Linked DNA regions of Homo sapiens: region 1 is linked to region 2. The links come from fine-mapping of genetic effects on gene expression. Tissue or cell type: subcutaneous fat. Region 2 holds a variant in brackets; the other region holds the start of a gene. All regions are shown on one strand. Distances are from middle to middle.

The links.
Region 1: WTAP starts here. The variant in region 2 is fine-mapped to the expression of WTAP in subcutaneous fat (TwinsUK, PIP 0.95).

Annotation. Positions count from the first base shown.
Region 1 is chr6:159,718,894-159,734,705 of GRCh38, reverse strand. It overlaps WTAP (WT1 associated protein), which reads right to left and starts at 7,200. Exons shown (of 8, transcript NM_001270531.2): 1 at 7,003-7,200. It also overlaps a transcript of SOD2 not described here and the pseudogene RNU4ATAC18P. RefSeq lists silencers at 758-1,018, 6,782-7,331 and enhancers at 6,794-7,391, 7,342-7,471, 7,822-7,911, 7,392-7,989.
Region 2 is chr6:159,751,946-159,767,757 of GRCh38, reverse strand. ACAT2 (acetyl-CoA acetyltransferase 2) reads right to left here and starts at 5,713. Exons shown (of 9, transcript NM_005891.3): 1 at 5,616-5,713; 2 at 4,705-4,839; 3 at 572-753. The coding sequence starts at 5,670. It overlaps SOD2-OT1 (SOD2 overlapping transcript 1), which reads left to right and starts at 5,426. Exons shown (of 2, transcript NR_037166.1): 1 at 5,426-5,764; 2 at 6,122-7,500. WTAP (WT1 associated protein) reads right to left here. Exons shown (of 8, transcript NM_001270531.2): 7 at 14,144-14,298; 8 at 11,439-12,730. The coding sequence ends at 12,147. It also overlaps a transcript of SOD2 not described here. RefSeq lists enhancers at 3,832-4,332, 6,401-6,460 and silencers at 5,741-5,890, 5,911-5,970. The variant C/G (reference allele first, on the strand shown) is at 5,994.

The DNA of each region.
Region 1 (15,812 bases), 33 kb after region 2:
TATACAAATTAAGTAATTAGTTCTTATACTAATTTAGTTTTTCCTATTCTTTCTTTCTTAAGAGATGGGGACCCACCATAGTGCCCAGGCTAGTCTTGAACTCTTGGGCTCAAGTCATACTCTCATCTCAGCCTCCCAAGTAGCTAGAACTACCTGTGGAAGGATCACGCCCAGCCCTAGTTATTATTTCTAATAGTATACTCATGAATCTTCCCTTACTTTAAAGTGTTTATGGTTTATTTTAATTACCCATACTTATTATAAATTCTAAACTACTAGAAATTTGACCAAAAGCTTGGTATGTTAAACTGAATTTTTTTTTTTTTTTTTGAGATGGAGTCTCACTCTGTTGCCAGGCTGGAGTGCTGTGGCATCATCTCGAAAGCTACTTGAGGCTGGTGTGGTGGCTCACACTTGTAATCCCAGCACTTTGGGAGGCTGAGGCAGGAGAGCTGCTTGAGCCTAGGAGTTTGAACCGAGCCCGGGCAATGTGGTAAGACCCTGTCTCTCATTAAAACAAACAAACAAAACACACACACACCAAGACTACTTGATTTCTCCCACTTGATTTTGAGATTCCTCAAAAGGAGATAATCTTCCAACAGCATGTTTTATACTACGTACAATCTCAACTCCACTTTATAAATGAAACATTCTAATCATACTGTTATTAAACCCTGGTTTTCAGATTAAGTAAATTGTGTTGAAGAAAGCAGAATTTAGAGGAAAAATCATAAATTGATCTTAGATTACTGGCTTGCTTCTTTCTCTGTTTAATCTTTTTTTTTGGAGATGGAGTTTCGCTCTTGTTGCCCGGGGTGGAGTGCAACGGCGCGATCTCGGCTCACCGCAACCTCCGCCTCCTGGGTTCAAGCAATTCTCCTGCCTCAGCCTCCCAAGTAGCTGGGATTACAGGCATGCGCCACCACGCCCGGCTAACTTCCTTGTATTTTTAGTAGAGACGGGGTTTCTCCATGTTGGTCAGGGTGGTCTGGAAATCCCGACCTCAGGTGATCTGCCCACCTCAGCCTCCCAAGTGCTGGGACTACAGGCATGAGCCAGCGTGCTGGGCTTTTTTTTTTTTTTGAGACAGTCTCGCTCTGTCACCTAGACCACAGTGCAGTGGTGCGATGATGGCTCACTGCAATCTTGACCTCCCAGGCTCAAGTGATCCTCCCACCTCAGCCTCCCGAGTACCTGGGACTACAGGCATGTGCCACCACACCCAGTTAATTTTTTGTAATTTTTTTTGGTAGAGACAGGGTTTCGCCATGCTGCCCAGGCTGGTCTCGAACTCCTGGGCGCAAGCAATCCAACTGCCTTGGCCTCCCAAAGTGCTGGCATTACAGGCGTGAGCCACTGCACCCTGCCTTCCCTCTTTAATCTTTCTCAAGGGATACAGCAAACAGATAAAAACCTCAGTATTTGTTTCTGAGCTAATTGTATACAGTCTGTTTCACTGAGCAAGTCACTCTGTCCTATGAAGACATAAACCATATTACTATGATATAAAATGTATATTATTCTTTTTTTCTTTAAATTGGTTCCTCCCTTGTTGCCCAGTTTATTATCTCTGCTGCCATTACAGAAAGCTGCTTTGTAACTACCTTAACCTGGTGGCAGTCATTTTAATCATCTCAGAAACCATCACCATATTTAACTCCACATGTCTAACTACTTCTATTTTAGCATGACACATGCATTAGGCTGCAAAGTCTTAGAACCCAGATATCAAATCTGGCATTTCCTTGTAATTTCCCATTTGTCTGGAGCTAAATATCAATTTTACACACACACACACACACACACACACACACACTATATATATATACAGAGAGAGAGAGAGAGAGAGAGAAAGAAGCAGACAGAGACACTCCCCCTCCCCCTGCGCCCGGTCTCTGTTGCCCAGGCTGGAGTGCAATGGCGCGATCTCGGCTCACTGCAACCTCCACCGCCTGGATTCAAGCGATTCTCCTGCCTCAGCCTCCAGAGTAGCTGAGATTACAGGTGCCTGCCACCACGCCCGGCTAATTTTTGTATTTTTAGTTTCACCATGTTGACCAGGCTGGTCTCGAACTCCTCACCTCAGGTAATCCACCTGCTTTGGCCTCCCAAAGTGTTGGGATTACAGGTGTAAGCTACTGCGCCCGGCCAATAATATTTTTAATTTAAAAAATCTTAAAGACAATTTTAGCTATTTGAGCTGTACATATTTAACCGGTATATCAGTATCTGTATCTATGTATATACGAACATAAAATTTTGAGAACCAACCAGGAACTTCACGTAACAGGTACTGTGGTAGAGATCTGTGAATGACAGTTTGAAAACAGCTATATTTATCACTATGGCTAGGTGGTATACCTTTTATCTAGTTACTAAGGCATCCTACCTACTCAGTATGTACAACTTTAGTTGTAATACTAAAGTATCATGGATGCTGTTCAATATAAATTCCAGCTTATAAAAGTTATTATAGTTGGTCCTTGACCAACCCAGGTTTTAGCTGCATGGGTCCATTTATATTTGGATTTTTTTCAATCAAACTCAGATTAAAAAATACAGTACTCGGATCAAAAATACAGCATTCACGGGATGCGAAACCTGAGTATGCAAAGGGCAGACTTTTCATACACCAGGGTTCAAATTCCTATGCCAGGATTTTGGCAAGGATCATCGGTATGTGGTTCTACAACCTGATACTTTCCCTAGGTTTACTTGCTTACTCTCTTCTTAAAGACAGGTATCCATATTCTTATTCCACTAAAATAAAATTAACAGTAAGCTTAGCAAAAAATGAGATGATAATCTGTTTTTAAAGGGCATTAAAAGGACTGAGAAACACATGAAGAAAGTTCTGATAACCTTGGTATTCTGAAACAGGTTGTCAACTTTGCAAATACAAAAGTAGCAAAATCTCTGCACCTCAGTTTCCCCATCTCAAAAAGAATTACCACAACCAGGGCCCAAATACTGTGCTATTTCTGAAGACAGACATTAATCTTTAGCATGGTAACTGGCACAAAATGGGCATTTAATTAATAGTTTCTTCTCCCCATCAAAAACACAGACTCAGTGTTTCTTGAAAAACCTGAAGAGATAATCCACAGGTTGAGGATAATAATCATACTGTCCTCCCGACTGTTTCTAACACTTACTGCAGAATTCTTTGGCATCTCCAATATTTAGGATTCTAAACAGAAGTTACTTAAATTTTCTTTTTTTCCTCTCTTTTTTTGAGACAGAGTCTCACTCTGTCGCCCAGGCTGGAGTGCAGTGACTCGATCACAGCTCACTGCAGCCTCCATCTCTTGGGCTCAACTGATCCTCTTGCCTCAGCCTCCTTTGTAGCTGGGATCACAGGCATGAACCACCACGCCCAGCTAATTTGTTTTTTTTTTCTTGGTAGTAGAGATGAGGTCTTGCTATGTTGCCCAGGCTGGTCTTGAACTCCTGGGCTCAGGAATCCTCCTGCTTGGGCCTCCAAAAGTGCTGGGACTACAGTTGTGAGCCACCATGCCCAGCCTGCAATTATTGAAATTTCTTTTCTTTTTTTCTTTTTTTTGAGACGTAGTCTCTCTCTGTTGCCCAGGCTGGAGTGCACGGGCATGATCTGGGCTCACTGCAACCTCCGCCTCCCGGGTTCAAGCGATTCTACTGCCTCAGCCTCCCAAGGAGCTGGAACTACAGGCACGCACCACCATGCCCAGCTAATTTTTGTATTTCTTTTTTTTTTCTAGTAGAGACAGCGTTTCACTATGTTGGCCAGGCTGGTCTCCAACTCCTGACATTGGCTTATGTTCTTTTTAAAAAGTTTGATGGTGAGTAGATTTTAATTAAATGGTGCTTTTTATTGAAATTTTCTTTAAAAATAAAACTCTGTATTTGTAATGTAAGTCAGGAGTAAATACAGATTTTGGATAAATGTCTACACTTCCTAAGTCAACTCTCAGAGTCACTTTTAAGATCACTCTAGCTGTCTGGGGTATCCAACTTGGGAAATTCAGAGCCTCAGTATTTAGAAAGAAAATCCTTCCTCAACTTTAATCTGATGAAAAGTAAATCTTTCCTTGAAAGTCGATGATATGCCACAAAGTTAAATGCGCCATCTGGCAAAAGGCAAATTAGAACAGGTTCAAAATTTACAACTGTCTACAACATTCAACTATTTGGTCAAAATAGAACCTAATTGGCAATTTTGACTTTCACACCACACGAATGTACCGAGAAGTTTGGTATTCCCCAGGGCAATTTTTTTTTTAGCGCAAATGACAAACACAATAACCTAAATTTAAAGTCAATTCTAGATTCATAAAGGCAATGAATATTCTAGGTTCTCAGAACAATCTATTCTCGTATCAGAAAAACAGAATGACCATAACATCATTTGGAGTCAATTAAAGTTGAATCCTGAAGGAAAATAATAAAGAAAATATGTTCAGTTCTTATGAATCACACATTTAATAACAGCACTTTTCAAAGTCAAAGTTAGTTCCCATTTTCCAGGATGAAAATGACTGTTAGTCATTAGGTGATCAGCTATTAGGTGATTAAAACAGCTATTAATTAATAAATTGGGGGTAAGGGTCTCAAATTTGGTGCCCCTCAAAAGGGTGGTAACATGATTGACTAGTTTTAAAATTACATAAAAGTTTCAGTTATTTATGTAGATAATTCAGAGATAATATATCTCAGAAAATCAGGACCACCATCTACTCTTGATGCCTTAACACAGAAAAACAGCTTAGTATGGAGTTCAGTCTAGACTGGTTAGGTGCCTAGCATCCCAGATCCCAGTACCTTCCTGGCTCTTAGCATCATAAAGTTAGGTAACTCAGTTCCCTCTGAACGGAGGCAAGCGCCAGCCAAAACAACTTCAGTAAGAAGACACGGTACCTTGGCGAACAAATCATAGCTGAATGTAAGACACCAATCTGCAGACACTGTAGTAGCAAGGTACTGATGAGGAACTGAAAGGCCATCTTTTCCTTATCCTCTATCTGCCATGTGTGATTCCAAGCAAGTCTTTTAACTCTTGCAGTTTCCAAGTCAGCAAAAAGATAATTTTGCCTGTCTCACAAAGTGCTGCAAATATTAATGCTTTCAGCACAATAAAAATGCTATAGATTTTTCAAATAAAATATGAACATAATATGAACATAAAAGGCAACTTCAATGTGCACTTAGAAAAGATTAAATTCTATTAACTACATCTTCAAAGGCAGAAAATATTTACAGCAATATATTTTAGTCAGATGGAACATCTTGTTATACACAATACACAATGAAGTTTACTATTGTGGAGATACTGAAAAGTTTTTCTGTGTTAAGCTTAGTAACTACAAGAAGCAAAATATTTAGAGGCAGAAAAGTTGGAGACAACTAAAAAAATTAAAAACAAGAATAAAACCAAAATACTATCTTCAGTCTTCTTTTGCTGAAGGACCTACTAACTAACGTACAATTTTGAGGAGCAAGAAGCAAATACATAATGATCAAAACTGCTAAACAATATATTCAAGGGGATTCAATACTACATACAAGACCATAAGAGACCTTGAACGCTTTAATGTACTGTACAAATTGTGACAATGCTCATCTCCACATCACAGGGCTTTTTACACATTGTGTTTCATCTCTACCAGCTTATTTCTGACAAACAATACACAAAAATATTTTCAGCAAACATGACTCAACGTTGAATTGGAAAAGCTAGACATAAAAGAGCCATGTAAAAATAAGCAGTGCCTGGGACACACTATTATTATTACTTTTATCCTTTAGGAGTTAGCAATTCTGGTAGCTTGTCCAAATTCTGCCAATGAAAAAGTACTAAAAATACTGAACTTTTAAACCATGTGTCTGCTTAAGATACCTTAACATATAAAAGCACTGTAAGAAACACACCTACCCAAACCCTTAAAATGTAACCTCAACCTTATCACAAGCCAGCTTTGCGGACTGCAATCTTTCCCCGACTTGGCTAATCAGATGCTACTTGAATGAATTAAAATGTATCCATCTTGAAAAGATTTTTCGCTCATAGTTTTAAATTACGGTTTTAAATGTCCACAACATGTTTATCTATCGTAGAAAACTTAATGGTCAAAATTTTAAAATCCAAAAAACGAGAACTTGCGATGGATCTATGACGTCCACTTATCTTCCGAAGCAATGGAATTAACTAAAACTAGATAAAATAGGCACAAATACAACTTCCAATTGTAACATACTCATAGAAGTATTTCCCTACCAGACTAAATAATAGTTTTTTTGTTTTGTTTTGTTTTTTTTACATAATCACAGTTATGCTAGTCCTTGATAATGTTAAGCTAATCCTTTGGGATCAAACAACCAAGTGACTTTCTTATCAAAACAAGAACTCGGGCTTTTCCATTACGTGTACACAGACTTATGAAAAACGGTGAAAAAAAAATCTAGTAACTGTCTCACAGGGATCCAAGGTAAGACTTGGATTTCACAAAAATCTGCAATAATTCAGTTTCTTTCCTCAGAATGCTTATACTCATTTAAAAATGGAAGTCTACAAGAGAACGTAGTAACATCCTACTGCGTGACATGAAATGTAGGGAACGAATGTTTCTTTTTTTCCTTGCTGAACTCGTTAGTGCCGCCAGGTCCTCAGGAGAGGCCCAAGGGAGGTGAAGGGGGCGACCCCGAGGCGAGGAAAAAACGAGCGCCGCCGCTCAGCCCGGGGAGGGCATCCTCCGGCCTCCGTGAGTGGCCGGTCTCTCCGGCCGCCAGAGCACCCCTCTCAACCCGGGCCTTGGGGACGGAGGACAGAGATAAAATGGCCTCGAAGCGGCGGAAGTGTTCCCCGCAGGCGGGAAGGTAGAGCGGCTCACGAGAGACCGGTGCCGCACCAGGCCCGTGTGGCCTTTCGGGCCCTGCCCGCCCCTTACCCGCCGGGGGCGGCTGCGCATCAGCCCTCAGGCCCCGGAGGTCCCCCGCGTCCGCTCCCGCCAGCCGGCCCGCGCCTACCTCTCCAGGCAGAAGCCGCGCCGGCGCCACCGGTCGCATAGGCCGAGGCCGCGCTGCTTGCCCTGCCGCCCGGGCCCCCCGGGCCACCGCGCAGCCGGACAGCTCTGCCGCCGGCCCCGCCGCGCTCCTAGTCCCGCCGCAACCCCTGCGCTCCCCTTTATTTGTGGGTCTCGCTGCCACAAAATGGCGCTGAGGGAGGAAACCAGGCCCCGCCGCCCGGCCCCGCCCCGCCGCACGGCTCCGCTCCGCCCTGCCCCGCCCCACAGCCGGTCCGAACGCGCCGCAGGCCAGCGCCACTGCCTCCCGCCTCCCGCCTCCCGCCTCCCGCCAGCCTCCCCGCTCCGCCATGTTCGCCTTCTGGCCCACTCACAGGAGAGTCGCCTTTCAGGCGTGGCCGCAGTCACTCGCCCGCCGCCGAACCCCGCCAGGAGAGGAAAGGTGAAGGGAGGGAGGCCGTCGGCCTAGCCCGATCGGGGCCTCGAGGCACAATGGAGCAGCTGCTCCCCGGTAACACTCCCCGTCCTTTCCCAGGAGCCTGGCGCGAGCTCCGCGGGCCCCGGAGCTCAGCAAGCTCAGTAAGGGAAGCGGCCGAGGGGAGGGGCGGGCCAGCGAGGTCGGAGGTCAGCCCCAGGGCATCACGGGAAGGGAAGGTGGAAGTACTCGCCGGGGCCACCTGCGGCTGCGGGGCTGCCTCGTGCGGAGGGATCTGGGCGAAGGCGGCGCGTGATTGGCCGCTCTGTGTTCGTGACGCTCATCCGTGATGCTTCCGCGTGTCGGAGGACCAGGTGCCACCTCAAGAGAGAGGCCGTGGGCGGCGAGCCGCGGGCGTTTACTCTTAGCAGAAGCTCACCTGTAAGTTTTGAGAACTTAGAAACCGATGCCTTCCCTCTCATCAGTCGTGAGGCGCAGTCTCCTGGCCGCTGGGTTCGTTCCTCCTTGACATCTCTGGAGACGCATCGAGGAGCTATTGTTCTCTGGCGTCGGAGGTTGCGCTGTGTCCGCGGCGTTGAGGGCCCCTTGCTAACTGGAACACGGGGAAGGCGGCCCTGTGAGGTTTAGTGAACTCAATCAAAGAGGTCCTGCAAGTGGAGTAGACTCCCTGAAGTAAGACTGCCATCTGGACCGCCGAGTAATGGCGGTGTTACCTGGAGAACGTGAAACAGTCTCTAAACACTTACTAGAAGAGCACGTAATTCTTTTGATTGGTCTGTCCTTAGCCGGCTTTATCAAACCTGTTCATCCCCAAAGGAGTGTCTTGTAGTAAGGTGATTTATTAGGATAAGATTAAAGTACATTCCAGATGGTCGTAGTATATTTCCAGTGAATCAGATCGGTCTGGAGAAAATCTTTGCAACTCGTATCACAAGAGCTCTCAAAAATTGAAAACAAAAAGTGCAAAAGCCAAAGGAGAAAATGGGGAAGGACATGAACAGATGATTCTCAGAAAAAATACCGTAATGGTCTTTAAACATAGAAAGTCGCTCCACCTCACTTACAATGGAAATACACGTTGAAATTACCTTTCCTGGTGGGAGTGGAAAAATGGTTCAAGTTCCACGGAGTACAAAATTACTTGTGTTTATTCTTATACCTTGCAGTTATACTTCTAACCCTAACCTTATTCTGAAGGTGCAGCTCCACACATGGAAACAATAGGTATACAAGGTTATTGCAGTGCTATTTGTCATAGCAAAAGTTAGGGATAACCCAAATATCCGTTAATAGGGAACTGATTGGGAATGGTGCATCCATACAGTAGAACACAATGCAACCATTAAAAAGATTCAGGAAATAATCGTGTGTTGCTTTGGAATGAGTCTCAGGTTGTATTAAGTATTCACTTAAATATTTAAGTGTAGTAAGTATTCACTGTATTCAAAAGCAAAAATAAGCATATATGCTTTTATGTATTTACTTAAATACATAAAAATATATATTTATATTTAATATGAATATTTATGTGTATATGCTTATTTTCGGGGAGGAATTGGAAGGATATCCTGGAAACTTAACATTTTTAGTTGCCTATAAAGAGTGGGGGGTGGAGACAAGATTTCTCTGTCTTTGAACTTTTAGTTTTACATAGCCAAAAAAGTAAATAAAAAAGGAAACAAAGTAAATCCTAAGGTTGAAAGCAAATTGAAACAAATGAACTTAACTGTTAACTAATATAACTAAGATACACAGAAAAAATAATTATTCTTTGGGTTTTTTTTTTTTTTTTTGAGACAGTCTCACTGTGTTGCCCAGGCTGGAGTGCAGTGGTGCAATCTCAGCTCACTGCAACCTCTGTCTCCTGGGTTCAAGCGATTCTCTCAGCTCAGCCTCCTGAATAGCTGGGATTACAGGCATGCGCCACCATCCCCTGCTGATTTTTGTATTTTTAATAGAGATGGGATTTCACCATGTTGGCCAGGCTGGTCTGGAACTCCTGACCTCAGGTGATCCGCCTGCAGGTTGGCCTCCCAAAGTGCTGGGATTACAGGAATGAACCACCACCACTGGCCCCTCTGAGCTTTTGAACACAGTACTCTAGTAGTGTATCTGTGTTGTGATAGTGTAGTCTTTCCTTATATGCAGGAGATTGGATTTAGGACCTTCTGCGAGCATATACAGAAATCTGCATACTAAAGTCCCGGAGCTGAGCATAGGGAAAGTTGGTTCTTTGTGTAGGTGTGTTTTGCATCCCACTGTACTTCTGTTTTGTTTTCTTCCTTCCTTCCCTTTCCTTTCTTTTTCTTTTCTTTTTTTCTTTCTCTCCCTCTCTTCTTCCCTCCCTTCTTCCCTCCCTCCCTCTCTTCCCCCCTCCCTTCCTTCCCTTCTCTTGCTTTTCTTTTTTTTTTTCTTTTTTGAGAACAGGGTCTGACTCTGTCGTCCAGGCTGGAGTGCAGTGGTACGATCATGGCTCACTACAGCCTTGACTTCCTGGGCTCAAGCAATCCTCCCATCTCAGCCTCCCGAGTAGCTGGGACCACAGGCATGTGCCAGCACATCTAGCTAATTTTTTTCTATTTTCAGTAGAGAGCTGTGTTGCCTAGGCTGGTCTTGAACTCCTGGGCTCAAGTGATCCTCCCACCTAGCCTCCCAAAATGCTGGGATTATAGGTGTGAGCCACCGTCCCTCGCCCCACTGTATTTTTCATCTGTGTTGGGGTGAAAAAAATCCACATATAGGTGGACCCTGGCAGTCCAAACCAGTGTTGTTCAAGGGTCAACTGTGTATTCTAAGGATGAAAAAAGTGCACAGGAGCTTTCAGCTTCACTGATTTATGATTAATGGTAACATTGTTACTGTGGTTTTAAAACTCTGTACTGTATATGGTAGGATAACATAAGTATTTTAATGTTACTATATACAAAGATGTGCAGTGTGTGAGAGAATGAGATACAAACACAAGATCAAAGAAGTTCAGAAAAGGGCCGGGTGGCTGATGCCTGTAATCCCAGCACTTTGATAGGCCAAAGCGGGAGGATCACTAGAGTCCAGGAGTTTGAGACCAGCCTGGGCAACATAGCAAGACCCTGTCTCCATTTTTTAAAAAATTTAAAACAATTTTTAAGACGTTCATTCATCCGGGGGTGGGGGTGGAAACTAATATAAAGAATTTTAAGAAGTTCAGAAAAAAAAAGTCTGTAGTATTGAGTTTAAACTGGAGGGCTGGGTGCAGTGGCACACACCTGTAATCCCAGTGCTTTGGGAAGCCAAAGTGGCTTAGGAGTTCAAGACCAGCCTGGGCAACACAGTGAGATCTTGTCTCTACAAAATACAAAATAATAAAATAGCCAGGGGTGGTGGCCTGTGCCTATAGTCCTAGCTACTTGGGAGGCTGAGGCGAGAGGCCCAAATGAGCCCAGGAGTTTAAAGTTACAATGAGCTGTGATCTCACCAGTGCACTACAGCTTGGGCAACAGACCCTATCAAAAAGAAAAAAAAGTTTCAACTGCAAAAAAAAGTCCTAGTTCTGTGGACTGAAAGGGCCTAGAAGCACTAGGGTGACCAGTTGTTCTAGTTTGCCACAAACAGAGGGGTTTTCTCTGGATGCTGGACTTTCAGATTAAAACTGGAACAGTCCTGGCTGAACCAGGATGTATAGGCATGGGCACCCTACAGTAACAGTGAGCACATCTGACACTGAGATCTTGGTTTCTAAATTCCATTTCCCACTAAAAAGATCCAGAGCTCCTTTGGAGAACTGGCTGATTCCAGCTCTGGGACGGGAAAGGTACAAGATGAGCCAGGTATTTCGTTGTGCCTGAATGCAGAGGAAGTGCTTAGACCAATGAGGCTATGCCAACTGTAGTTAGGAGAACAAACAACACTAATCCATAGTGGTAGATAGCAGATCAGTGGTTGGTTAGGAGGGGAAGAGAGAAGGAATTGACTGGAAAGGAAAATGGGAGAACTTTTGGGGGTGATGGAAATGTTCTGTGTCATGGTTAGTGGGAATGTATACGTTTGTCAAAATTCATCAAATTGTGTCACTGTAAAGAATGCATTTTATTGCAAACCAAATGAGAAAAGCAAAGTCGATTGAGAACTTGCTGTAGCAAGGGAGTCAGCCACCATCCCTTATGTTTTAGCAGAGGTTCAAAGGCATGCAGAGGAGTGGGAAAGCTTTACAGTGGACAAAAGGAAAGGTTTCACAGGTATGCCTGATTGGAAGCTGTTGGCATGGGGAAGCTGGAAGCTAACTACAAGTTGGCATCCTATGGTCTTGGTTAAAGGAGCATATTTGGCTTTCTCTGGATGGGCATAAGCTAGAAGTGAGGACAAAAAGTAGGGAAGCTGTCAAGTTTTAATCAAGTCCTGGCCATTTTGAGCTGATTGTCATAGAAGTTATTATTTAGCTTCCTGGATTGCTACCAGAGATAGCAGTCTGACTTCCTACAAGTCTGGTTGATAGCAGGTTTGGCTTTCAGGCTGAGAGTACACTTATGGTAAATAAGTGGTTGGTTTACTGGGCTAGTTGTTGTAGGTAATGGGTCAGAATTCTGTTTTTATGTATATTCTGGCCATTTACCATTTGTATTTTCAGTCTCTCAAAAATAAATTTTAGAGACATGGGAGCCAGCTTGAAGGATCTCCCAGGGGGCAAATTTAGGGCAATTTTAGCGTCAAAAAGAAAATGAATACAATTGATTGCAAATACTGAATAAATAAAAGTCTACTCTCTAGTACAGAGAAGAGAGAATGAGAAGAGGGAAACTATTTTTCCATCATTGGTAGTGTCTATTACACCAATTTGATACTCTGAAAATTAGTTATTAAAGGGAGATAGCATTTACCCTGTTTGTTTTTTGTTTCATTTGTTTTTGTTTTTAAGACAGAGTCTTGCTCTGTCATCCAGGCTGGAGTGCAGTGGCACAAACATGGCTCACTGCAGTCTTGACCTCCTGGGCTCAAGTGATCCTCGTGCCTCGTCAGAAGCTGGGACTACAGGTGCCTGCCACCATACCTGGCTAAGTGTTTTTGCTTGCTTTTTTGTTTTTTTAGAGATGGGGTCTTGCTATGTTGCCCAGGCTGGTCTTGAACTCCTGGGCTCAAGTGATGCTCCCACCTCAACCTCCCAAAGCGCTGGGAGTACAGGCATGGGCCACTGCTCCCAACCTACCCTGCTTTTTTTTTCTTTTTTTTTTTAATAAAGAATGTGGTTTATACCCAGTTGATGAGGAAAAACTCTTCTTTACTATAGGATGCCAGCTAATAAGTATAAAATAAAATATAGAATTAGACAATAACCATGATGCAAACCTTAATGAAATAATTGACTCAGACAAGGACTATCAATGGACTTCAAAACCTTTAGATGAAAGATTGCTGGGAAATGCCATCAAAGTATCACTCTACAGGCTACTTACCTAATTGTAAAAGAAATTACAGGCTGGGTGTGGTGGCTTACGCCTGTAATCCCAGCACTTTGGGAGGCCGAGGCTAGCAGATCATGAGGTCAGGAGTTCAAGACCAACCTGGCAACATAGTGAAACCCCATCTCTACTAAAAATACAAAAAAAAAAAAAAAAAAAAAAAAGGTCAGCCGCAGTGGCTCATGCCTGTAATCCTGTAATCCCAGCACTTTGGGAGGCCAAGGCAGGCAGATCACCTGAGGTTGGGAGTTCGAGACCAGCCTGACCAACGTGGAGAAACCCCGTCTCTACTAAAAATACAAAATTAGCCGGGCATGGTGGCACATGCCTGTAATCCCAGCTACTCAGGAGGCTGAGGCAGGAGAATTGCTTGAACCCAGGAGATGGAGGTTGTGGTGAGCCAAGATCGCACCATTGCACTCCAGCCTGGGCAATGAGAGCAAAACTCCGTCTCAAAAATAAATAAATAAAACGGCTGGGCACGGTGGCTCATGCCTGTAATCCCAGCACTTTGGGAGGCCGAGGCGGGCAGATCACGAGGTCAGGAGATTGAGACCATCCTGGCTAACATGGTGAAACCCCATCTCTACTAAAAATACAAAAAATTAGCCAGGCGTGGTGGTGGTCACCAGTGGTCCCAGCTACTCGGGAGGCTGAGGCAGGAGAATGGCATGAACCCAGGAGGCAGAGCTTGCAGCGAGCTGAGATTGTGCCATTGCACTCCAGCCTGGGTGACAGAGCGAGACTCCGTCTCAAAAAAAAAATTAAAAAATATAAATAAATAAAAATTAAATAAAAATAAAAATACAAAAAAAAAATAGTCGGGTGCAGTGGCATGTGCCTGTAGTCCCAGCTCCTTGGGAGGCTGAGGCAGGAGAATCACTTGAACCCAGGAGCAGAGGTTGCACTGAGCCGAGATCGCGCCATTGCACTACAGCCTGGGCGACACAACAAGACACTGTCTCAAAAAAAAAAAAAAAAAAAAAAAAAAAGGTAAAGAAAATACACCTGTATAGTGGAGCCATCTGGTGGTCACCATTTGAACCAAACCATCAAATTTAGTATCAGTAATAGTGGGACAACCTCCAGTTTACAGAGAATACAAGAGAAAGGGTTGTCATGCAAATCTGATAGTACTAGCAAAGATAATTATTCTAAAAAAAAAGTCGTAAGACTATAAGCAATAAATAGTTATTGAGCAGCTGAGTTAGGCATACTATAGTCTCAGTTTCAGTATCTAACCAGCTTCAAGTCACCATTTCAAATGAAATATCAACGCGTGATGAAAGTTAACTTACTACCATCCTTTTCTTGGGGTTGCACTACTGTCCAATGGGTACCTAGTGAGGGCAGTACTGCTAACTCCTGCACAACACACCGAAATCAACTAGAGCTTTGCTTTGCCTTGGTGCAGTTTTTGGAGAAATGAAAAACAGCTTTCCCATACACACACAGTTATTTACATATTACTGTATTAAAAAGTACATACAGGCTGGGCACGGTGGCTTACGCCTGTAATCCCAGCACTCTAGGAGGCCGAGGTGGGCGGATCATTTGAGGTCAAGATTCGTGACCAGCCTGGCCAACATGGTGAAACTCTGTCTTTGCTAAAAAAATATATATTTATATATACACAAAAAAATTAGCCGGGCGTGGTGGCGGGCGTCTGTAATCCCAGCTACTCCGGAGGATGAGACAGGAGATTCGCTTGAACCCGGGAGGCAGAGGTTGCAATGAGCTGAGATCGTGCCACTGCACTCCAGCCTGGGAGACGGAGTGAGACTCTGTCCCCCCCACCAAAAAAAAAAAAAAGCAAGGCTGGGCATGGTGTCTCATGCCTGTAATCCCAGGACTTTGGGAGACCGAGGCAGGCAGATCACTTGAGGTCGGGAGTTCGAGACCAGCCTAGCCAACATGGTGAAACCCTGTCTCTGCTAAAAAATACAAAAATTAGCCGGGTATGGTGGCACACATTTGTAATCCAACTACTTGGGAGGCTGAGGCAGGAGACTCTCTTGAACCCGGGAGGTGGAGGTTGCAGTGAGCCAAGATCGCGTGACTGCACTCCAACCTGGGGGACAGAATAAGACTCTCTCAAAAAAAAAAAAGAAAATAAAAGAAAAAACCATAATACTGAGTTAGATTAAGTGAATTGGCCACTTCTTTGCCATCAGCCTAATACTTAGCCTGCAACTTTTTTTTTTTTTTTTTTTTGAGAAAGGGTGTTGCTCTGTTGCCCAGGCTGGAGTGAGGTAGCATGATCTTGGCTCACTGCAGACTCCACCTCCTTTGCCCAGGTGATCCTCCTGTCTCAGCCTCTCCAGTAGCTGCGACCACAAGCACAAGCCACCTCTCCCGATCTCGGCTCACTGCAACCTCCGCCTCCTTGGTTCAAGCGATTTTCCCACCTCAGCAGCCTGAGTAGCTGGGATTACAGGCACATGCCACCGTACTCAGCTAGAGACATGAGTAGAGACATAGTAAAGACAGAGTTTCACCATGTTGGCCAGGCTGGTCTTGAACTCCTGACCTCGTGATCCACCTGCCTCTGCCTCCCAAAGTGCTGGGATTATAGGCATGGGTTACCATGCCAGCCGACTTCTCTTATCTCTTATGTGGTGAAAACAGGAAAAGAGAGCTCTATGGGGTCCCTTTTATAAGGGCACTGATCTCATTCATGAAGGCCCTACCTTCATGACCTAATCCCCTTCCAAGGGCCTCACCACCTACCTCCACATTAGGGGTTAAGATTTCAACATGAATTTTGGGTGGACGCAAACATTCAATCTATTGCAGAAGTACAGAGGAAAAAAAAAACAGTAAGTCTAGCTTTTGTTATTGGCACCCAGAAATCCAGGGATCCTGGAGAGATTATCAGAGTTGTTGGTTAAAAATGTTAATGTTAATCCACGACGCTCTCAAGAGCTCACGTCTGGTGTGACTATG
Region 2 (15,812 bases):
TGCACCTCAGCCCCTGAGCTGCATCAGTAGGAAGCAGGGGGTATAGTTTTTCTTTCAACCACTATGCCAGTTTGAGGTATGGAACTTGGTGAAACAAATCATGCCTGGCAAACCTACTGGAGAAGGGCACCACTTGGTGGTCCTCTTTTACATGTTCTATACCCTGAAAAGGTCAAAAAGTCTGGTCCCCAGGATCTCCTTGTCATGTGCAGGAAGGTAAGTGGCAACATCTGTTTTTTGCCTTTTACTCACAATGGGAAAGAAATTTAAAACCAAGGACATCAAGCAACTAATATGAATTTAATTCAGAAAATATTACATGCTTCATTAATAGTTTAGAAAAAGTATATTCGGTTCCAATCACACTGGTTGATAAACTTCTTATCAACCCGGATTTCCCACCCAAACTGAAGAATACTTCACATTCAAGTAGGGATCAAGGTTGTCATTTCTGTTTATTTGTTCACTGTTTGGTTCCAGCTCTGCTATGCATCTGTTTACTCTGTTCTGGCATAGACATGAGTTTCTCAGTGTGAGGTCAGTGAAAGCCACCTCATCAGAGAGGCCTTACCTTGCTCATATTTTCCATGCCTCCTGCAACCACAATGCTGGAGTCTCCTATCCCTATTGACTGGACTGCAAGGCACACAGCTTTTAGGCCTGACCCACAGATCATCTGGCAGCTCCATGCTGGAACAGAGTAGGGAATTCCTGCACCCACACTGGCTTGTCTAACAGGATTCTGCCCACAGCCTAGAAAGAGGAACACAGAGGACTCTTAGCAATCAAGGAGAAAGACAAAATGTCACAGTGAAAGTGTGTGGAAAATTGCCAGTTGGGTTACCTGCCACTTCTGAAAGCCTACAGGTCAAGTAAGTGCCCACTGGAGGCAAAAAGGCCTGTATACACTCTCCACCTGTCACAGTCTAGCCCTTGAATATATACTGCCTTGTGCTGCTCTGTAGGTATTTCATAGATATAAGCTTTCTCCTCCATAAATAAGTCATTAATACATTAAGAAAGAAGTGTCATCCTCATCTTTTGATATGGCTTAAATAGTTGGGCGCGGTGGCTCATGCCTGTAATCCCAGCACTTTGGGAGGCCAAGGAGGGCAGATCACCTGAGGTCGGGAGTTTGAGACCAGCCTGACCAACATGGAGAAACTCTGTCTGTACTAAAAATACAAAATTAGCTAGGCGTGGTGGCGCATGAGTGTAATCCTAGTTACTAGGGAGGCTGAGGCAGGAGAATTGCTTGAACCTGGGAAGCGGAGGTTGCGGTGAGCTGAGATCACACCATTACACTCCAGCCTGGGCAACAAGGGCGAAACTCCGTCTCAAAAAAAAAAAAGTGCGGGGGGGTGCTTAAATAAGCATTATCAAACCTATGTCTAATAAACACAGGATATAACCTAGGCATTATCAGTGTTTCTAACTAGGGCCATTTGCTCCCAAGATCATGGCTTAAGACACTTGAGAAGAAAAAGGGTTACTTAAAAAGGAAAACCTTTGATAATAAGCAGTTCTGTTCTTGCTTAGTATTCATTACACTATGCTTAAATGGTTATATAACAAAATATATACAAACTCAGAATTCACAAATACCTTTTTTTCTCATTCTGAGTACTGAAACACAAATATCTTTTCATAATTCAACTATGGGACTTCCTTTAGTTGGGAAGAAATACATAATTTACTTAAAGTAGCACAGAAGAGAATGGAGTTAAAAGTTTCAAATATTCTCAATCGCCATTGTCTGTTATCAGAGTCAATGGTAAATGTTTATAAAGTGGTTACTCTATTCCCAGTTTCAGATATACTCAAACCTACCACCCTTCCTTGGAGAGTTTGTGGGGAAGAACTAGCAAATAAGTCGCTGATAAAAACTTAGAGATTATATTCATCACAATGTTATCAATCTGGGATTAGGCTGGAAACTAAAAACGGGTAAGGTTACTTGAGACTGAAAACATATGCAGGATCATATACATATTAAAAAGACAGGCCCAGTGCGGTGCCTCAGGCTGTGAGCAGTGGCTCACACCTGTAATCCCAGCACTTTGGGAGGCCGGGGGAGGGGGGCGCATTACTTGAGGTCAGGAGTTTGAGACCAGCCTGGACAATATGGTGAAACCCCCCCTCTCTACTAAAAATACAAAAATTAGCTGGGCATGGTGGTGCACGCCTGTAATCCCAGCTACTCAGGAGGTTGAGGCAGGAGAATTGCTTGAACCTGAGACAGAGGTTGCAGTGAGCCGAGATTGTACGGCTGCACTCCACCAGCCTGGGCGACAGAGTGAGACTCCATCTCAAAAAAAAGAAAAAGAAGAAATGAGGTACAGGGCTGGGCATGGTGGCTCATGCCTGTAATCCCAGCACTTTGGGAGGCCGAGGCGGGTGGATAACTTGAGGTCAGAAGTTCGAGACCAGCCTGGCCAACATGTTGAAACCCCATCTCTACTAAAAATACAAAAATTAGCTGGGCACAGTGGCAGGCACCTGTAATCCCAGTCACTTGGGAGGCTGAGGCAGAAGAATCACTGGAACCCGGGAGGCAGAGGTTGCAGTGAGCCAAGATTGCGTCACTGCACTCCAGCCTGGGCAACAGAGTGGGACTCCATCTCAAAAAAAGAAAAAGAAAGAAATGAGGTGCTAACACAATTAATAATGCTAGCATTTAGCATACTACGAGCTTCATGAGAATGAGAATTTCTATCTGATATGAACATTGCTTATCTCCAGCTGCTAAAATAGTGCCTGGCACAAAGTAGGTGCTCAATAAACATTTGTTACATGATTGTAGAAGGTATCTGGCTCAAGGAATAGGACAGATCTAAGTTCAAGTGCTAGCTCCACTTCAAACTGTGACCCTGGTAAGTCATTTAACCTCTTAAACTCTCATTTATTCATTTGTAAAATGAAGATAATAGGATATAACAGACTTGTGAGGAAGATTAAATGAGGTAATGAAAGGAAAGCATTTAGCACAGTGCTTTAAAAGCCTTAAACTTAGTAGACATGCACCGGTAGTCCCAGCTAGCTCAGAAGTTCAAGGGCATGGTGCACCATGATTGTGCCTGTGAACAGCCATTGCACTCACGCCCAGGCAACAGACAGACTCCACTTCTACAAAAAAATTTAAAAAATTAGCCAGGTGTGGTGGCCTGCTCCTGTAATCCCAGCTACTCCAGAGGCTGAGGTGGGAGGATACCGTGGAGCCCAGGAGTTTGAGGTTATAGTGGGCTACGATTGATTACACCACTGCATTCCAGCCTGGACAACAGAGTGAGACCCTGTCTCTTTAAATAATAATAATAATAATTAATTAATTAATTACGAGTGTTCAAACCCAAAGAATCAGAAGATGGGGGCACTCTCAGGACTCAGCTATATTCCTCTGGGGAGTGATATGCCCCATTTGCAAGGGGCATGATGTGGCACCTATTTTCCAAGCTCAGAACTGAGCCCTAAGAGGGCAGGGAACTTACCTGTATTGTTGGAACCATACTCCCAGCACTAAGCACAGTATGGGGCACATAGGAGGAACTGAATACATTTTTGTTGAATGAGTGACACTTTGAGGTAGTAAGGAGGAGCAGGCATACTTTCCTATGCGTCAGGCTGGCCCTGCTGCTGCTTCTTCTTCTTCTTTTTAAAAGGAGTCTCACTCTGTTGCCCAGGCTGAATGGAGTGCAGTGGCACAATCTCAGCTCACTGCAAGCTCCGCCTCCCGGGTTCACGCCATTCTCCTGTCTCAGCCTCCCAAGTAGCTGGGAATACAGGCGCCCGCCACCACACCCGGCTAATTTTTTGTATTTTTAGTAGAAACGGGGTTTCACCGTGTCAGCCAGGATGGTCTTGATCTCCTGACCTCATGATCCGCCCACCTCGGCCTCCCAGAGTGCTGGGATTACAGGCGTGAGCCACCGGGCCCGGCCGGCCCTGCTTCGTAAGAATGAAAAGGCAGTGGGCCGCCTGTAGTCCCAGCTACTCGGGAGGCTGAGGCAGGAGAATGGCGTGAAACCGGGAGACGGAGCTTGCAGTGAGCCGAGATCACGCCACTGCACTCCAGCCTGGGCCACAGAGAGAGACTCCGTCTCAAAAAAAAAAAAAAAAAAAAAAAAAAAAGGAAAAGAAAAGGCAGTGTAGGTGGTGTAGGTCAGTGGTCTAAGTTCATTCACAAAAAGCATATTAATGAAGCTAAGTCTTTTTGTTTGTTTAGAGAAGGGGTCTCACTCTGTCACCCATGACGGAGTGCAGTGACACAATCACTGCAGTCTCAAACTCCTGGGCTCAAGTGATCCTCCCACCTCAGCCTCTCCAGTAGCTGGGAGGCACAGGCCATCATACCTGGCTATTTTATTTTTTGTAGAGACGGGGTCTTGCTTTGTTGCCCAGGCTAGTCTCAAACTTCTGGACTCAAGTGATCCTTCCTCCTCCGCCTCCCAAAGTGCTGGGATTACAGGCGGGAGCCACCCTGCCTGGCCAAGAAGCTGAGTCTCAAGCTGGATAGAAGCTACTGACAGGGCTGGAAGAAGGGGGCCAACAGGAGGAATCATAACAGAGGGAACTCTGAGCAAAAGCAAGGAGGCAAGAACTTGAGTGAGTGAGAGAGTGTGTGAGTGTGTGAGAGTGTGTGTGTGTGTGTGTGTTTATGGGCTGTTTCTAATAAGCCTGACTTCTCCTGGAATCACTGAGACTTACCTGCTGCCAAGACATGTCCAAAGATGACCTCAGACACATCTTCCGGAGCCACAGTGGCCCTCTTCAAGACTTCTTTGATGACAGTGGAGCCCAGGTCCTGGACAGGAACAGCAGCTAAGGCACCATTGAAGGAACCTACAATAGAAAGGCGGAGAGCGTGGACATCACAAGCCTGCGGGTAATACGGGAACCACCTACGAGCAGGGGAGCCTCATGACCCTGTTTGGCAAGGCCACGCGAGGAGGCAGTGCCCTCTCCTCCCACACGTTCCTACACCTGCTGGTCTGAGCAAAGGTCAAGGTGGGTGCCACAACTCGCAGCAGCCGAGGGCTGGACAGGCGACCTCCAGAACGGCCTAGGGACGCCGCTGTAGCCCTTCTATTTCCCCAAATCCGAAGGACTGGATGCGACCCCATGCTTCCCAAACAAAAGGAACCGGCGGGTCAAGGGCGTTGAAAACCATGCGGCACGAAGGAGACGAAGTCACGACTTCTAGCCATTGTGTGACAGCCCGACCCCAGCCCAAAGCCGGGCTCAGACCACCTAGCAGTTCCGCCCCTGCCGCAGGCATTACCGATGGCGCCTCCCGGAGCCGGCCAATCAGGGGCCCCGGAGGAGAACACCTCCCTACGCCAACCAATGGGAGAGGCAGGCCACGCGATGGCTCTACCCCGGGAGCCAATCCAAGCACGAGGGACGGAGTGCGCACATCGGGAGAGGAGAGGGTGGGGCTGTAGCACCAGGTCAGGGAACGCGGGAGCCGCAGGGTTCCAGGGATCCCGCGGCTCCTCGCGGCTTGGCCTGACCGGCTTCCTCCACATACGCCCCTCTCCTACACAAGTCCGGCCCTCGGCGCTCCTGCCGAAGCAGCAGGCGCCTCGGACTCTGCGCGGCTCCCGCCGGCCACTCACCTATGATGGTCCGCGCCGCCGAGACGATGACCACAGGATCTGAGCCTGCATTCATCTTGCTTCTCCTGCCGCCGTCTGCCCTGCGCTGCCTGCAAGCTAGGCAAAGCTCCTCCTCGCAGCCCACAGGCCTGCCGCGGGCGGGACCTGAGGTAGCCCCGCCCCTCGCCCTCCACCTCCCCGCGCACCACCTCCCCGCGCATCCCACTGTGCGCAGGCGCAAGGCCGGAGCAGGGGCGGGCGGAGGCGCGCGGGGCGCGGGGCGCGGGGCGCGGGGCGGAAGTGAGGCCGGGGCGCGGGGCGCGGGGCGGAAGTGAGGCCGGGGTCTGGGCTTGCGGGCAGAACCGCGGACCTCGGACGCATTTACAGAGCGCCTGAAAC[C/G]CCAGTGTTTCTGGACACCCCAATGTTGGAGTTCCCCGACTTGACGTCTTGGGCTTTTTTTTAAAAAATCTTAGGGTTTCTCGAAACAGTAAAGACTGGGGGGTGACAAAGACTTATCTCTCGTTCAGCTCAGGACTGGAATCCCACGGGCGAGAATCTCGAGTGCGAGCCCGGCCCGCGGCGGGTCTCAGCACAGCTCTGATGGGTCCTTTTGCTCTCGGCGGCTTCGGGAGGTCCTATGCGTTTCTCCTGGCGCCAGTCATTCGCTCGCGTGAGGGGCTTGCTAGGAGCGTCTCGGTGCGAGCCCCCTGCCTTCTAAGATCAACTCTGGCTGTGAACGGGTGAGGACGCCGGGAGCGTCTTAGCGTCACAAAAGTTCCTTTGGTTGACGTTTGGACAGTGAAAGGAGCATGTAACAAGTGGGGTCAGTTTTGTTTAAAACCCTTTCTGACTTCCCAGCCTCTTACTGGGCAAAGTTCATAATTTTTCTGAGCTTTCTAGGGTTTCCAGGCAAGCTTATGAGGGGCCACCGTTACAGCAACTTGTTGGGAACACCTGGATAGTGGAACAAGAAAGCTTTGTCACAAAGTCATGAAGGGGAAAACTGTTGACGGACCTGGAGAATCTTCCTGAAGAACTTTAAAGTTGATTGAAAGAATCATTAAATCCTGGAAACCTACATTAAGACTTTGCAGAGATATGCGGATGGGTCAGATAAATCAGAGAAGGTAAAGAGTGTAGGCCCCAGAGGTGGGGCAATAGAGAAGGAAAAAAATTGCATAACAGTGCAATTTCAGGAGAAATCTTTAGGGTCTGGAATAGTGGTGAAATCAGCTGTCTACTCTGCTAAGAACTCAGCAGCACACTGAAGTCTCTTCAGTTGTCTTCAATGTGTTTCCTGTCCCCTAACATATCTGAGTCCAAGGAATTCAAGGAATGCCTCCCGTGGCTTTTGCTCTATTCTATCCCATTTTCCCCTTACTCCCTGGCCACTTCTGAGTCTTTGTGGGCTTACTCTCACATCCCCTTAACATGTTCCCCAAGGCTCCTACTTTGCACCAGCTCCCTGGGTAATACCAGTCATTCCTACGGCATCAATCACCACCTGTATACTGACAAGTCTGAAATCCTTACATCTAACCTCGTCTCCTAAGCTGACTGACCCTCTTCATTTAAATTCTTACAAGCACATCAGGTCGGGCACCTTGGCTCACACCTGTAATCCCAGCACTTTGGGAGGCCGAGGAGGGCGGATCATTTGAGGTCAGCAGTTTGACACCAGCCTGGCCAACATGGTGATATCCCGTTTCTACCATAAAATAGAAAAATTAGCCGGGCGTGGTGCCGTGCGCCTGTAATCCCAGCTACTGGGGAGGCTGACATGGGAAAATCGCTTGAACCTAGGAGGCAGAGGTTTCAGTGAGCCGAGATCACACCACTGCACTCCAGCCTGAGCGACAGAGAGAAACTGTCTCAAATAAATAAAATTTCCTATAAGCACATCAAATTTGACATATTGAAACCAAACTCTTCCAGCCTGTTTCTTCTGTAATCTCAGTGAGCAGTGAAACTATCTTCTGTTAACCAAACCAGAAATTTACCTCTGAAACTCCCCCTAAACATCACTTCTTCCAGAAAAACCTTCCAATCTCCTGCATTTGGTGCAGCATCTTACCCCTAACTTCCTCTTTCAACTTACCATGTAATTCCTAGTTTATCTGTCTCCTCTACTGACTACATAAGCTTTCCAAGATGATCCTGTTACACTGCTTTATGCACAGCTCCTAGCACATTATAGGCAGTTATGAATGAACACCAATATTCTTTATGGCCAGTGCCTAGCACATTTGAATGAGTATGAATATATTCTTCTGGAGCCAAGGGATATAGAGTTTCCTGCCTGAAGGCTCTATCTAGAGTAAGTTTAGGAGCCAATCTTGAGAAGGTAATTGCATGCTTCTGCTGAGTGGCCAAACAGAATCTGTCCCCTGAGGAGTCCTCATTATAGCTACTCATATGATTATCTACTCATATGAGACAGACAGAGACTAAGAATAATGAATGAAGGAAAGAAGAGGAATTTTTTTTTTTTTTTTGAGACGGAGCTCGCTCTGTCACCCAGGCTGGAGTGCAGTGGCGCTATCTCGGCTCACCACAACCTCCACCTCCCGGGTTCAAGCGATTCTTCTGCCTCAGAGTCCTGAGTAGCTGGGATTACAGGCCCGTGCCATCATGCCCAGCTAATTTTTATATTTTTAGTAAAGACGGGGTTTCACCATGTTAGTCAGGCTGATCTCGAACTCCTGACCTTGTGATCCGCCCACCTCGGCCTCCCAAAGTGCTGGGATTACAGGCGTGAGCCACCGCGCCCGGCCAGCTGGAAGATAATTTTTAAAATTATGTCTTGGCCGGCCGCGGTGGCTCATGCCTGTAATCCCAGCACTTTGGGAGGCCGAGGCGGGCAGATCACCTGAGGTCGGGAGTTCAAGACCTGCCTGACCAACATGCAGAAACTCTGTCTCTACTAAAATACAAAATTAGCTGGGCGTGGTGCCACATGCCTGTAAATCCCAGCTACTAGGGAGGCTGAGGCAGGAGAATTGCTTGAACCTGGGAGGCGGAGGTTGTGGTGGGCCGAGATTGCACCATTGTACTCCAGCCTGGGCAACAAGAGCGAAACTCCATCTCAAAAAAAAAAAAAGAAATAAAATAAAATTACATCTAGATCTCAAATCATAAACTACCTGGACTGGTGAGCAGGGTGAGTGGGCAGGAAGCCACAAAAATCTCCAAGTGCTTACTCATGAGGAGCCATCATTACAGCAGTGCTATGGAGCCAGTTTATCCTGAAGGGGCCTTCTCAGCATCTTCCCCCGCTGGAAGATGCAATCATTCTTGGTTAAGTTTCATAAAGAGTTGCAGGAGTCCAAGCCAGGTCTTTGCTACAGGCTGGATTCACCAACCTACCATGCAGCAAATTCCTCCTTGGTCTCCATGAGGGGAACAGTGAATCACCAAAGTGGAATTGCCATAGGATGAAGGTCAGCAGTGTACTCCTTACCACTAGGGGCTAGCTCAACACTCCCTCAGCACAGCCACCCCATGATGGGTCCAGATCAGTTAATGACATTACCTGGGATTATGAAAGTGTTCACTATAACCACAGGGATAGGTGAACTCCCAAGACAGTGACGTAGAGCAGCAGGCAATGATTTGAGTACAGGGCATAACTACTCATGAAAGAGGGAACATCTGAGAAAGTAAGTTGTCAGAAGGAATGGCTTTACATTGTTTTGCAAAAGTGTCTCAAAAACTGGAGTAGTCAGTTGTATCCAATACACCTGAGGAGCCAAGGAAACTGACATCTATTGCGCTCTCTGTATGAGGACTACCAGGAACCAAACTGGGGCACCAATCAGGGGGCACTGTGATCTTTAGACTTCCCAGCCTCCAAAAACAGTGAGGAATGCGCGTGTAAAGCCACCCAGTCTGTGGTTTTTTTTTTTTTTCACAGCAGCCCAAGCTAAGACAGCAGTGAGTGCTCTTACAGGGGAGAAAAACAAAACAAAATATCGAGCCTCGAGGATACATTTGCCCAAATCAGTTAAGTGTAATACCAGGATTCAAACCAATTAGATGCAGAAGCCACTCTATCACCTCTCTTATCACAGGCATACCAGAAAATAAAGCATCCAATTCCAGAAATGAGAAATACTGACTCTGTGTACCACAGAATAAGTGCTCTGAGTTATTCATCAAGGCAGACTCAACAGAAACATGAAAATGTCACATTAACAGGTCCATATTAAATTCAGTCATAAAATTGTATCACTGGTTGAAAAATTAATTTCCTATCACAAACTCTTGATTACATTACACCAACAGGACAGAGAAATTACATTTTTGTTTAAATTGGTCAAGTTGAAGGATGTACATAACAAAAGCCAAACACAGTATCTGATATATCAAACACCAAAATGTTTAATCACATGCAAATTAAAAATCGTATAGGATTTTTTACTCACTTGAGCAGACTGTAGAAAAGGTTAATCAAGGTTGGGCGCGGTGGCTCACACCTGTAATCCCAGCACTTTGGGAGGCCGAGGTGGGTGGATCACAAGGTCAGGAGTTCGAGACCAGCCTGGCCAACACAGTGAAACCTCATCTCTTCTAAAAATACAAAAATAAGCCGGGCATGGTGGCGCACGCCTGTAATCCCAGCTACTCAGGAGTCTGAGGCAGGAGAATTACTTGAATCCGGGAGGTGGAGGTTGCAGTGAGCCACGATGGTGCCACTGCACTCCAGCCTGGGTGGCAGAGCGAGACTCTCGGCAAAAAAAAAAAAGAGAAAAAGAAAAAAAAGAAAAGGTTAATCAAGAGACAGTGCAGTATTTAACATACTGCTGAAGACCGGATATACCTGTATCAGCTAAACAAGCAAAAGCAGCAATTACTTTCAAATAAGTTGTACCTCAGTTTTCGAGTATTATAACTCCACTCCCAAGGTTCCTTGATTGTATTACAAGTTATGTCTAAAACAATACTTTGCTTTTAACAGAAATGGAATTTCATTTCAACCATATATGAAAGCTACACATTTGAAGGCCATTCAATATCATACTTTTATACTTAATTACCTCTGAGAAAATGGAGCAAATTTTGACATTCTTCCACCTTAAAAACATTTTCTCCTACCTACATTCTAACACCCCTTACTCATATAATATTACCAGATATGTTGTTAGTAAAAATCAGTAGTGCTGGCCAGCGTTTTAAAACAAACATCACTAACTACAAAGATACTCTACTTGAAATCAGGTCACAAAAAACCAACGCTGCTTTTCAATTAAAACTCAAAAAGGGCCAGGAGCTGTAGCTCACTCCTGCAATCCCAACACGTTGGGAAGCCAAGGCAGAAGGATCCCTTGGGGCCAGGAGTTTGAGGCCAGCCTGTGCAACATAGCGAGGCCTTGTCTCTACTAAAATTAAAATAAATGTAGCTGGGTGTGGTAGTATATGCCTATAGTCTCAGGTACTCGGAAGCCTGAAGTGGGAGGATCACTTGAGTCGAGGACTTTGAGGCTGCAGTGAGCCATGACTGCACCACTGCACTTGAGCCTAAGTGACAAAGCAAGACCCTGTCTCAATTAAAAAAAAAAAAAAAAAAAAAGCCTAAGAAATAGATGACTATTTTCTTTATACTTTTCTGTATTTTAAAATATTTTGTAACAATTATAAGTCAAGAAAAAATTTTAAGTGTAGCCCTAAACTCCAGCTCCGTTTTGCAAAATAAGGCATAAATTAAAAATTGTGTGCAAAATCGTAATCGATGCTTGGTCTTAAGTTTGACTGTTGTGGTACTTGAAGGATAATGAGTAGAAATTCAATGACTCAATGAAAATGACAAATGCTAAACATACACCCAAAACAAAACAAAAAAGCTAATTAAGGAGTTACAATAAAAATCTTTATTTAGGTTTGGTCAGTACAGGTAAGATATACTGGAGTCACAGAGCAATATGCATTAACAGGATACAACAGTTCATAAAAACTGAGTAACTATGCACACAAATTTCTTAAACAGTCACCTAAAGAGAAAATGCACAGATGTATGGTGGAAAAAACTGTATCTAACACTGAAACTACTACAGGACTCCATCAATGAGTCCAACTTTTAGTGATAAAAAACTACTGTACTGGGCAAACTTGGCAGTCATAAACCCACATCTACTCTAACAAGTCTGAATGGTGCATAAGTACAGTAACAGCATGAGTACGAATGCCCTTACACAGCACAGATTCTAAACAGACAGATTTATACAGACATCATTGTGTTGTATTTTAAGGAAAAATTTCCATTTACAATTTCACATTAACTCATATAAAAATAACTTGACCCTACACAAAATGTCCTTTTAGCAACATTCAAAGTAATTAACTGTTACAATTTCCAAAGCGGCAGAAGTATTGAAGCAAAAAAAAAAAAAAAAAAAAAAAAAGAAAAGAAAAAAAAAACAAAGAAAAAAAACAACAAAAAAAAACCAAAACGTACACCCACAAAAAGGCAAATTGTGACAAAAGTATGCATTAATTTTCTGGACAGTATCCTCTCCCAAATTAAATGACACTGTATAAAAATTTGCTGAAAAAATATTACAAAACTGAACCCTGTACATTTACACTTGAGTCCAAGCCATTCTGAACGTGGCGGGAACCCACAGTTCGATTACCTTTCCCACTCACTGCTTTCTCCTCTTGAGGGTCATGACTGGAGTCTGTGTCATTTGATTGGTGTGTGAGAGAGTTTTCACTGCCCGTGGGAGAGTCTACACTTTCATACCCCGCACTGAGTTGATTTACGTAACCACTACCTCCTCTGCCAGTTCTCTCCTCTGAGCTGTTGGAGGACTTATTACCATTCCCTGGAGAAGAAGGAAAGTCATCTTCGGTTGTGTTGCCCTCCCTGTGAAATCCAGACCCAGACGTCCTCTGGCGGGAGGAGCTACCATTACTTGGTCCGTTTGTCAGACGACTGCAGTCTTTACTTGTGGCCTCTGACTGTTCTACAGGTTCAGAAGCTGTAGTCCTGCTGGTACTTGGGGCAGAGGCCTGAGACTGCTGCTGCTGGTACTGAGCCAACTGCTGGCGTGTCTCCTTCAGCTGCTGCTGCAGAACTAGAATGGTACTCTGCATACCCTCTACTTCTTCATCAAGCTGGATGATGAAGTCATTCAGTTCTGTGCAAAGGAGAGTCAGACCAACTTTAATATCGTTTATAACATTGAAAAATGTTTCTTTAGTGCCTGCCACAAAGCAAGGGAGTCAATAAACGCTCAAGTAAACAAATACAATTCTAAAATCACACTACATTTAAAAATTTTGCTTGGAATCTTAAAATATGACTGAGTTTGTTTTGGGGGAAGTCAGATACTTAAAATAATATACAGTTGGCCCTCCACATGCAACAATGAATTCAAGCAACTGTAGAAGGAAAATATTCAAGGAAGAAAAAACTGGGTCTATACTGAACATGTACAGATTTTTTTTCTTGTCATTATCCCCCAAACAATACAGTAAAATAACTATTTTCCTAGCATTTATATTGTATTAGGTACTGTTAATCTAGAGATGGCTCAAAGGGGAAGATGTACATAGGTTTATATGTAAATATGACATCATTTTATATGAGGGGCTTACTGTGGGAGGTCCTGACACCAATCCACCATGGATACCGAGGGCAACTGTATTAAGCAACCAAGTTAAAATTGTTTTGATCCATCTTGCCATATGCCTGATTACAGCCCCAAAGTTTGACTCACGTTTACCTATGGGCCCACTATGGCCAATCCCCTTATTCCTGATCCAGTGCCTTAGTTCCATAGCAAGTCTGATCCTTAAGGATAGTGTGGTCCTCTATAACACTCCAAAGAGGCCCATGTTCTCAACCAAGGACTGTTACATATAAAAGGACAAAAGTCACAGGAAATAATTCCTGAAGATTTTGAAAAGGTAGGTAGTTCAGAAGAAATTACTTGGCTACTGATCATCTTTGCAATTAACCAGAGACACTAATTTTCAATTTAAAATTTCAAAGAATTTGGATATTTTCCTTATTAATAATGCACCTTACAAAGAAGAGAAACAGAGATACAGCTACACTTGCACTAAAAAGGATGGAGGCTGACAAGTTTTATCTCAGCAAATTTAAAGATTAAATCTCTTATTCACTAATAAAACCTTCACAGATACAATCAACTTTATTACTTTCAGATCGCTGAAAACTGCCCATGTTTCTAAGATTTACACTTAACGAGAAATGCTTATTCTCCCTTTCAAACAATGAATACAAATTTGTCCATCTTGTTAAGTAATACAACACCCTTTTATCTTTTACCAAATCCTACCCCCAACTAAAAACAAAAATGTAAGAAATTTTGAACAATAAAGAATTAGGAGGGTGGGGATAAACAAACTAAAATTATATGGCTTTGTTTGCGGACTCAACTAAAAATGCTTCACTCACAATAATATACAATCATAGGGCAGAGGTTAACAATGTACAGAATCTAACCTATAATATTCATGACTGGCAGTTTTAAAAAGCCAATGCAAAGTTGAGACAACGTTCCAAAAAGAAACAAACCCCTTACCATCCTGACTGCTTTTAAGCTCCTCACTGTATTTCTTCTGTAAAGCCAACTCTGCTTCAAGTTGTGCAATACGTCCCTGGGACAGCTGCCTTCCAAGCTCTTGATTCTCCTGGATAAGCATTCGACACTTCGCCATTAACTTTTTCCCTGTTTGGCTGCAAAGGAAAGAGCCATCCATCACAAAATGAAGACAAAACTCTCTGTCTTTGCTTACAATTATTACAGTGATAGATGTAACACATACAAACATAACTATATCACAGCAGATGCTTCCCCATAATTACCATCTTCTTTTCTGGGACACATCCATCTTCTGCATTTCAGTATTTTGCCAACACAGCAGTAAAAATAAACCCTAAACAAAAAGTGCCCAAACAGCTACACCTTGTTTCTATTACATCAATAATCAATTCTGAAATCCATCTATTTTCATCTCAAATTATCATTTGAAATGGAAACAGAGCCAGTTAATTAACACACACCTTGGCTATACCAGTATTATTACACTAAGGAATCTAGCGCTTTATCAGAAAAGTTCTTGAAAAGGTACATGCAACATCAATCACAAATATTTATGAAAATCAGTACCTACAAATAAAAATGAATGAGAGTATTTATTCTTGCTAGAAAAACATTTAATAAGGATTTTCCTTAACAGGAAGTCCTCCAGCATGGGCAACATAGACTCCAACTCTACAAAAAATTTTTTAAAAAGTAGCCAGGCACACATGCTTGTAGTGCCAGCCTCTGGAAAGGCTGAGGTGAGAGGACTGCTTAAGCCCAAGTGGTTGACGCTGTGACCATGCCACTGCATTCCAGCTTCGGAAACAGGGACCCTGTCTCAAAAAAGAGGAGGAGAGAGGGAAGTTTTCTGGTACATCCATCTTCCATAACTCTCAAGAATATTATCTATTATATTAATTGAGGCACATTCAGCAGTTAAGGTTTTTTTTTTAAAGACTTAAGACTTTATTGGAAAAGATCATCCTTTTGACACAAAAATAAGACCAGTGGTCACGTATCACAATTCAAACACGCAAATATCTGCCAATCTAGGAGTGTCACACTTTCCACAGATTATAGTTTCCAAATGCTAGTGCAACATACTACTGAACCTATGTGCACATACATAGCAATTGCAAATATGTAATGAAAAGCTCAAATGTTTCCCAATAAAATTTTACTGCTTTTCTTTAGCCTCAGCAATAAAAGGAGAAATTATTTGCTTGTTCTTGTAATTATTTATGAAAAAAGAAAAAAAAAGAAATGATCACTTTTAAAGGGATCTAAGTAAATAATTGTGATATTTACCTTTGAGACTTGGATAAAGACAGTGTGACATTCTTGTCCTTGGGGTAAGTCCAGGATGACCTTATGGGTTAAAACATTTTTTAAATTCTAGTCTTTCCTTCTTCTAGTGAGGCTTTCACTTGCCTGATACACTACTTCAGTATGCCTTATAAGTTTAAAAATGAGAGCATTTTGTAAATATTTTATCAATCTTTGAAGTGTTGCATGGTTCTTTCACCTACAGCATTTTTTTTTTTTTTTTGAGATGGGGGTCTCACTGTGTTGCCAGGCTGGAGTGCAGTGGCGTGATCTCAGCTCACTGGAGCCTTGACGTCCCCAGGCTCAGGTGATCCTCCCACCTCAGCCTCCGGAGTACCTG